Linked DNA regions of Homo sapiens. The protein of the gene in region 1 purifies or fractionates together with the protein of each later gene. This does not show direct contact. Each region holds a gene or a part of one and is shown in the gene's direction. Other genes may lie near its edges.

Region 1 (4,976 bases):
GCCTAGACAACGACTACCACACGCCGCTGGACATGGCTGCCATGAAGGGCCACATGGAATGCGTGCGCTACCTGGACTCCATCGCGGCCAAGCAGAGCAGCCTCAACCCCAAGCTGGTGGGTAAGCTGAAGGACAAGGCCTTCCGCGAGGCGGAGCGGCGCATCCGCGAGTGCGCCAAGCTGCAGCGGAGGCACCACGAACGCATGGAGCGGCGATACCGGCGCGAGCTGGCCGAGCGTTCCGACACCCTCAGCTTCTCCAGCCTCACGTCCAGCACCCTGAGCCGCCGGCTGCAGCATCTGGCGCTGGGCAGCCACCTGCCGTACTCTCAGGCCACGCTGCACGGCACGGCCAGGGGCAAGACCAAGATGCAGAAGAAGCTGGAGCGGCGCAAGCAGGGCGGCGAAGGCACCTTCAAGGTCTCCGAGGATGGGCGCAAGAGCGCCCGCTCGCTCTCGGGCCTGCAGCTGGGCAGCGACGTGATGTTCGTGCGCCAGGGCACCTACGCCAATCCCAAGGAGTGGGGCCGAGCCCCGCTCCGGGACATGTTCCTCTCGGACGAGGACAGCGTCTCCCGTGCCACGCTGGCGGCCGAGCCTGCCCACTCGGAGGTCAGCACCGACTCAGGCCACGACTCCCTGTTTACCCGCCCCGGCCTGGGCACCATGGTGTTCCGCAGAAATTACTTGAGCAGTGGGCTGCACGGACTGGGCCGCGAGGATGGGGGTCTGGATGGGGTGGGAGCGCCGCGGGGTCGGCTGCAGAGCTCCCCCAGCCTGGACGATGACAGCCTGGGCAGTGCCAACAGCCTGCAGGACCGCAGCTGTGGGGAGGAGCTGCCCTGGGATGAGCTCGATTTAGGCTTGGACGAGGACCTGGAGCCCGAGACTAGCCCGCTGGAGACCTTCCTGGCCTCTCTGCACATGGAGGACTTTGCCGCCCTCCTGCGGCAGGAGAAGATCGACCTCGAGGCTTTGATGCTGTGCTCTGACCTCGACCTCCGCAGCATCAGCGTCCCACTGGGGCCCCGAAAGAAGATCTTGGGGGCCGTGAGGAGGCGGCGGCAGGCGATGGAGCGCCCGCCGGCCCTGGAGGACACAGAGCTGTGAGTGTCCAGCCTGGCGGGGGGGATGGAGGAGCAGGAGTTGGAAGGCCCCTGGGGAGGGGGTACAGATCTGCCTATTCAGGAGTAGGGGGTGGGGGATACTGTATTTCATAAAATCGAAATGAGGCCATCGATGATAAAAGGCACCCTTATTTTATTTACCACCAGCTCAGAAAAAGAAGTGGCCAATTTAATGATGACCCGAGGCATTCTTATCACAGTGAAAGTGCACCTCGATTCTGGGGACATCGACAAGTGGGGAAATGGGCCTCTTAATGTCAATGAATTTCAACAGTCACAGGAATCACAGCTGGGGTGTTTTTGAGCCCTCCCACCTCCTAGGTGCTGGGTTGTGCCCTTGAACAAGTCCTCTTGCTTAATCCCTCTAAAAGCCTGTGTGCGCTGGACTATATTGGTGGATTATATCGTTCCCATTTTACAGCCAATGAGCAAGTGGAGGCTCAGACAGTTAGAATAGCTCACCTCAAGGTCCTGCTGCTGCTCAGCATGGAGCTAGGCTTGATCCCTGGTCTGCATGGCTTTAGAGCCTGGGGTCAAGGTGGCTGCCATGGGATGCAGGGCGTGCAGTCAGCAGGGCCTCTCAATTGCCCAAGACCTCAGGCAGATTTTTTTTTTTTTTTTTTTGAGACAGTTTCCCTCTTGTCATCCAGGCTGGAGTGCAGTGGCACAATCACTGTAACCTCCACCTCCCGGGTTCAAGCGATTCTCCTGCCTCAGCCTCCTGAGTAGCTGGGATTACAGGAGTGCACCACCATGCCCAGCTAATTTCTGTATTTTTAGTAGAGATGGGGTTTTGCCATGTTGGCCAGGCTGGTCTCGAACTCCTGACCTCAAGTGATCTGCCCACTCTGGCCTCCCAAAGTGCTGGGATTACAGGCGTGAGCCACCGCGCCTGGCCTTAGGGAGATGTTTTACCTACTGTTCCTGAACTTTGCAATCAGGAACGTGGGCAAATGCTCCCAAGAGGGTCAGCAGCAGCCCTGGAGGCAGAGTTCATGTTCCAAAGGCCGTCATAGTTGCCCAAGGCTGCCACCACAATGGTCATGCTGTGGCCAGCCCCTGCCCTGGCCCCTCCCCAATGGCATCCCACAGGCCCAACAAACTTTGTCCTCATTTCCTCTTAGGTATCTATGGCCGTTATCCTGAATGGCTGGGGCAGGGATGGGTGTGGGGAGGCAGGCTGGTTCAGAGTTTTGGGGATGGGGAGGTCACCCATAGGCTGGCGTCCCCCATCCCTGACAATTGGCCTGCCGAGAGATGGGGAGGCTAAGTTGTCCAGATGGCTGCCCTGGGTGAAAATGATGCCTCTGGAGGGCCTCATGTGAGATCTGTTTCTTTCTGTCTCTTCCTCCACAGATAACCGGGGGCTCCTCTCCCCAGACCAAAATGAATTGCAAGTTGCCACAACCTATGGTGGGGTCTCGAGGTCCTCACAGTTGCCAGCCCTGCAGCCCCCTTCCCCAGGAGCAAGGACCAGTTGGGGCGACTCCTTTGAAAGTCTGTCTGCACCTTGAAGCTGAGGGTGTGGCCTGGAGGCACCAGAGGGGCAAGAGAATGTTCCGGAACTCCAGTTCTGAGGGGTCTTGAAGGCCCTGAGCCACCCATTCTGAGCAGCCGTAAAGGACATGTAGACTTGGGGGAGGCCTGCCCCAGAGGGAGGGCAGGGGCATCGGAACTGGATGAGAGTGTGGGAGGTGGATGCGGGAGGGTGCACCTGTCCCGGGCGCCGTGGCCTCTCCCACCCCTCCCCTGATGGTCTTGTTCTCTTGTGCTCAGGCCAGAGACTTGCTCACTTCCTGCATTGTTGTGAAGGGAAGAGTTTGGGCTGCCTCCCCTCCTCCCGTCCACCCCAGAGGGGAAGTTCCTCAGCCAGACTCTTCAGCCAAATGCCCCAACTTTCAGTCTGTACCCCATCCCAAGCATAGCCAGCTCCCCCTCCTTCACCTAGTGGTCAAGGCCCGGAGCTGGAAAGCCGGGTTGGGGTGGGGTGGGGGTACTGACGCCCTTCCCAGCTCATCCAGGGGTGGAGCCTGGCCTGTCTTCCTCCAACCTCCCCCTTTTTCGTTGTGCAGCCTGGCCCCCCAGGGACCCCAGAGGGCCAGGGCGCTAGATGCAAGGTGCTAGACCAATGGGCTGCAGTATTATAGCCCCCAGGCCTGGCAGGCATGCGCTGGGCTAGAGAAAGGTGTCCGCCAACCTCCTCAGTCTCCCAGGCCTGGGACAGGCAGAACAGGGTGTGGCTGGGTGTCAGGCCTGGGGTGGGTAAGTCCTGCGATGTGGACACTGGAGAAAGTGGATCCTCTAAACTGCAGATTGTCCCCAGGTCACCAGGGCTGTGTGCGTGTGCATGTTTGTGTGCATGTATGCGTGTGTGCATGCATGTGTGTGTAAGTATGTGGTATGTGTGAGCACGGGTGTGTGCTTGGGTGTGTGTGTTCTTGCATACATGTGTGCGTGTGTGTGCACGTGAACGCGTGCGTGTTTGTGTGTGTGCATGCATGTGTGTGCATGTGTGTGTGTGCATGCATGTGTGTGTGTGTGCATGTGTGCGTGTGTGCACACTCACGTTGGGTGGTGTTTGGTAGGTTTCCCTCCAGGTCTGGTAGGGACTGGGCTGTTGCGTGATTCTGCGTGGATCGGGGGTAAGAGAGCTCACCTGTGTCCCAGCCCTCTGATGGTGGTGAGACCAGGGGAAAGGCCAGCTCAGAGGGTGGTCACAGCATGTGTCCTCTGACGTATGCCCCCAAAGCTCTCCAGCCAGACTGAGGTCACAGATGTGGGAGAGTCCCTGATGAGCCCGCTGACACGTGTGCGCCCCTTTGCACCCCATGCAGAGGTGCTCTCCTCCTTTCTCAGCCATGGCCCCCCATCCCTGACCTCAGCTTGGGAAGCAGCTCCTGCTGGGAGCATGGCCTCAGCCCCCAGCATCTCCTGGGGCCCCCATGGCTGGGGCAGGGGAAAGAGAGCCCTCAAAGGCCTCTTTCTGGTCTGTCTGGGGGTTCCCATTCCCACACATGTGCCCAGAGTAGGGGGCATGGAGGAGATGGTCCCTGTCCTACTGCAGGACACTGAGGGCTTGGCTGCCTGCCACCGCCATCTGGAGCCCACCACAGCTCTTCTCCCTGTTCTCTGGGCCTGAGCCTGGGGCCACCCCCAAGTGCCGACTTGTTTCTCCCAGAGCCCCAGGTGCTGCCCCTTCTCTCCTGTTCCTCGTCCGTTTACTGCCGCAGCCCCTCCTGGTTCTTCTGGTGCTGGGGTGGAGCAGGCTCTGTGCTCCCACCACTGTACCCCGAATCCCTCCTGCAGGCTCATTGCCACTTTTGTAGAGAATGTTCTCTATCAGTATCGTACCTGTCTTGTCCTTTAATGCTTTGGGGATAGAGTGAAGAGTGGAAGGGTGGGGGTGGGGGCGGGAGGGGGTCTGCTCTGCGCTTGTGAGGACTGGGTCCTATTCTCTGGAGTGTCTTCGAGACCCCATGCTGTGCATCTTTGCAGGGATCCCTAGGCCTTTACCTGCTCTCCTAGCTCAGCCCAGAATTAGGAGCTGGTGGAGAGGCAGGGCTGAGAACTAGGGCAGGAGAGTCCCCCTGAGCAAGGAGGATGGCTGAGCCTCCAGGCTTGTTGCCAGGGCCTGCAGCTACGGAGGGCAGGAGGATGCATGTTCTCTCTTCCCACCAGTGCCTACCTGGGTTTTTCCAGAGATGGGCAGAAACATACTCCAGGAGGCTGCTGCCTGTCACCTGGGCTCTGGGCCTCTGGAGGGGTCTCCATGAGGGCCCTCCAGAGGCCCAGAGGGGTCTCCATGTCCCTCATCACCGCAGGCAGCTCGTGGGCAGCCTGATTTGAAGCC
Region 2 (4,491 bases), on another chromosome or scaffold:
TTCATGAAAATTAAAATTTCTTCTAGTGACGAACAAAATGATACTCAGAAGCAATTTTGTGAAGAACAGAACACTGGAATATTACACGATGAGATTCTGATTCATGAAGAAAAGCAGATAGAAGTGGTTGAAAAAATGAATTCTGAGGTATTTTCTTTAGTTATTTTCAAATGTTTTTATATGTGTGTATATTTTAAAGAACTGTATTTTGGAAATATAAAGGATTTTTAAGTCATATATATGTGTGTATATATTCTATATATCCTTTGTCATATATCTATATACGTACGTATAGGATAAAGCCATGTTCTTAATTCACCTTCATTTGCCTGCAACAGTTGAGTAGTGACCTGCACAATGGCCTCAATCCAAAGGAGAAGTATTTGATATTTTTCATAAGAATTGATGATCTTTCCACATCAGAAATAAGTTTTGCTACTGAAAACAGATTTTCTCGTTTTTGGACATTAGTTTTTTAAAAAATGTTAATAGAGAAGTCAATTGATTATTTTTACTGATAAGAAAGTAGGAAATGTATAGCTGGGTCAGAGGCCACATTGTGGATACCATTATCCTTACTTTTGCAGAGAGGAACAGTTTGCTCCAAGTAGTTTCTCATTTCAATGTAAAGAGGTTTGAAAAGAATGACATGCCATGATACACATTTAGTAATAATTTATTGATAAGTATTTTCTTTCTGGAGAAATAGTTCAGTATATTTCCCCTATTTCACCATTACTACTGTTTCAAACATTATAAAGAGGAAATAAAAGTTACCGCAATGGCAAATAATCTCATGATTTCTAAGAAAATCTCTATAAGTTGTATCTTATTTACCATTCATATTTTGAAACAAAAGGTTTCTTTTGTATTTATATATTTACACCACAGAAGTAAGTGTGGTTTTGTGGAGGATCACTAGAAGTAGCATCAGCAGACCTGGGGAAAATCCTGCATCTGTGTATATTTTTTGACCTCTCCTTTTAAGAATCGCGATCTTAAATGAGTTCAGTATTATATGTAGAAGAGCAATGCCTAGATACAGATGTGTACAGTGTAGAAGGGTACAGTGCTTATTTGACAGTTATAAATAAATGTAATTCTTATAACTGAGTATAGAAATATTAGAAATGTAGAATATCGGTAAAACGTTCTTAAGTAAAAGAAACTTAAAGAACTTTGAGAAATTGCTTCTGTCCAAATATATGCATAGCTAAGGCTCTTAGGATGGTGTGGTTGATAGGTTAGATATCAGAGTGTAAACCTAATCTTAAAAATGTAGTCAAATTATTAATCTTATATTTTATGCCTCTGGGTTTTTTGTAACTCAGAAAAAAGGCTTTTTTTAATTCTGGGATTCTTAAAAATCCTCTAGTGATTTATTTTTCATCGTCTTTAAATAAATATTTAAACTTTTAGGAATTTAGGAGCAGATTCCTAAAAGTTTAAATATTTATTTAAAGACGATGAAAAATAAATCACTGGAGGAATTTACACTCTTATTAGGTTTGAAGTTTTGTCCAATTTTTTTCCAGTTAAATATCCACTATGGGGATTCTTTCATTATACAAATACATGTTATTTTTGAATTTCAGAAGAAATCATGATATGTCAATCTATTGAGTGCTAACTAAAAGTTCTCTTTGTTTACTTAGCTTTCTCTTAGTTGTAAGAAAGAAAAAGACATCTTGCATGAAAATAGTACGTTGCGGGAAGAAATTGCCATGCTAAGACTGGAGCTAGACACAATGAAACATCAGAGCCAGCTAAGAGAAAAGAAATATTTGGAGGATATTGAAAGTGTGAAAAAAAGGAATGATAATCTTTTAAAGGCTCTACAATTGAATGAGCTCACCATGGATGATGATACCGCTGTGCTCGTCATTGACAACGGCTCTGGCATGTGCAAGGCCGGCTTTGCGGGCGACGATGCCCCCCGGGCTGTCTTCCCTTCCATCGTGGGGCGCCCCAGGCAGCAGGGCATGATGGGGGGCATGCATCAGAAAGAGTCCTATGTGGGCAAGGAGGCCCAGAGCAAAAGAGGCATCCTGACCCTGAAGTACCCCATGGAACACGGCATCATCACCAACTGGGATGACATGGAGAAGATCTGGCACCACACCTTCTACAACGAGCTGCGTGTGGCTCCCGAGGAGCACCCCGTCCTGCTGACCGAGGCCACCCTGAACCCTAAGGCCAACCGCGAGAAGATGACCCAGATCATGTTTGAGACCTTCAACACCCCAGCCATGTACGTGGCCATCCAGGCTGTGCTGTCCCTGTACACCTCTGGCCGTACTACTGGCATCGTGATGGACTCTGGTGACGGGGTCACCCACACTGTGCCCATCTATGAGGGGAATGCCCTCCCCCATGCCACCCTGCGCCTAGACCTGGCTGGGCGGGAACTGCCTGACTACCTCATGAAGATCCTCACCGAGCATGGCTATAGGTTCACCACCATGGCCGAGCGGGAAATCGTGCGTGACATCAAAGAGAAGCTGTGCTATGTTGCCCTGGACTTCGAGCAGGAGATGGCCACGGTGGCCTCCAGCTCCTCCCTAGAGAAGAGCTACGAGCTGCCCGATGGCCAGGTCATCACCATCGGCAACGAGCGGTTCCGCTGCCCCGAGGCGCTCTTCCAGCCTTGCTTCCTGGGCATGGAATCCTGTGGCATCCATGAAACTACCTTCAACTCCATCATGAAGTCTGATGTGGACATCCGCAAAGACCTGTACACCAACACAGTGCTGTCTGGCGGCACCACCATGTACCCTGGCATGGCCCACAGAATGCAGAAGGAGATCGCTGCCCTGGCGCCTAGCATGATGAAGATCAGGATCATTGCTCCTCCCAAGCGCAAGTACTCCGTGTGGGTCGGTGGCTCCATCCTGGCCTCGCTGTCCACCTTCCAGCAGATGTGGATCAGCAAGCAGGAGTATGATGAGTCAGGCCCCTCCATTGTCCACCGCAAATGCTTGTAGGTGGACTCTGACTTAGTTGCGTTACACCCTTTCTTGACAAAACCAAACTTCTCAGAAAACAACATGAGATTGGCATGGCTTTATTTGTTTTCTTGTTTCATTTTTTGTTTTGTTTTTTATTGGCTTGACTCAGGATTTAAAAACCGGAATGGTGAAGGTGACAGCAGTCGGTTGGAGGAAGCTTCCTCCAAAGTTCTACAATGTGGCCAAGGACTTTGATTGTACCTTGTTCTTCTTTTCAATAGTCATTCCAAATATTGTGAGACGCATTGTTTCAGGAAGCCCCTTGCCCTGCTAAAAGCCACCCCACTTCTCTCTAAGGAGAATGGCCCAGTCCTCTCCCTAGTTCACACAGGGGAGGTGATAGCATTGCTTTTGTGCAAATTACATAATGCAAAATTTTTTGAATCTTCGCCTTAATACTTTTTAATTTTGTTTTATTTTGAATGATCAGCCTTCGTGGCCCCCCTCTTTTGTACCCCAACTTGGGGTGTATGAAGGCTTTTGGTCTCCCTGAGAGTGGCTGGAGGCAGCCAGGGCTTACCTGTACTCTGACTTGAGGAGAGTTGGATAAAAGTGCACACCTTAAAACAAATTGAGGAAGCACAGTATTTCAGTACAGTGGACAGCTTAGCATGTTGACAACTGAGAATAAAATGCTCAGTTCTGAACTGGACAATGTAAGACACAACGAGGAAACACTGGAAATGGAAATTCAATTACGTCATTGTAGACTGGCTGCTGCTCTACATGATTGTGACCAAAGTCAGATAGCTGAAAGAGACTTCTTTCCAGAGAACAAGACATGAACAGGTTTATTTACAGAAGACAATGAATTCTCATTTATCTCACCTAAAAGAGAACAGATTCTTTCTCAACAAGTCTAATGAAGACAGTAAAATCAACAGGCTAAAAATTAAGCTCCACGAAACAAGATAAAACTCTGAGAGAAAAGACGGGGCAGGCCGCCATCTTTCCCGTTCAGGCAACGTAGTCATTCCAGCCTGCGGGCTTTGGAGAGTACAAACCGACGAGGGACAGAAGAGATCCCACAGCACAGCATAGCTGCTTTACCAAATCATGGCCAGACTGCTTCTGTAAGCAGGCCCCTGATCCTGTTCCACCTCACTGGACAGGACCTCCCAACTGGGGCCTCCAGCTACCCCCACCAGCATTCCTTGGCCAATGGAAATGTGAAATGTTCCTGGGACAGAGCTCCCGGAGAGGGGCAGGCCCCCACCTTTGCTCTTTCGGTGACTAGCCATTCTGGCCTGCGGGCTTTGGAGAGCCCAAGCTGACAAGGGGTGGAAGAGGTACCTCAGCACAGCACAGCCACGCTACAAAAACGTGGCCAGACTCTTGTTTACGTCAGTCCCTGATCACATTTCTAGTCAGCGGGTGAAGTCTTTCAACCAGGGTCTCTGGCTACCTTGACTGCTGTTCTCTGGCCGACAGAGGTCTCAGGCCTCCCTGAGTCAGAGCTCCCAGGGGGAGGACCAGATTGTCA

What was found.
Region 2: the proteins of USH1G (region 1) and POTEF purify together in Homo sapiens (affinity purification with mass spectrometry; 2 studies listed by BioGRID and IntAct, with this or other methods). This does not show direct contact.

The regions. Positions count from the first base shown.
Region 1 is NC_000017.11:74,915,583-74,920,558, reverse strand, and holds the end of USH1G (pre-mRNA splicing regulator USH1G), read left to right. Parts: coding exon 1-1,105; intron 1,106-2,482; coding exon 2,483-2,486; 3' UTR 2,487-4,476; downstream 4,477-4,976. UniProt on the Homo sapiens protein: Plays a role in pre-mRNA splicing by regulating the release and transfer of U4/U6.U5 tri-small nuclear ribonucleoprotein (tri-snRNP) complexes from their assembly site in Cajal bodies to nuclear speckles, thereby contributing to the assembly of the pre-catalytic spliceosome on target pre-mRNAs.
Region 2 is NC_000002.12:130,072,737-130,077,227, reverse strand, and holds the end of POTEF (POTE ankyrin domain family member F), read left to right. Parts: intron 1-26; coding exon 27-147; intron 148-1,655; coding exon 1,656-2,984; 3' UTR 2,985-3,693; downstream 3,694-4,491.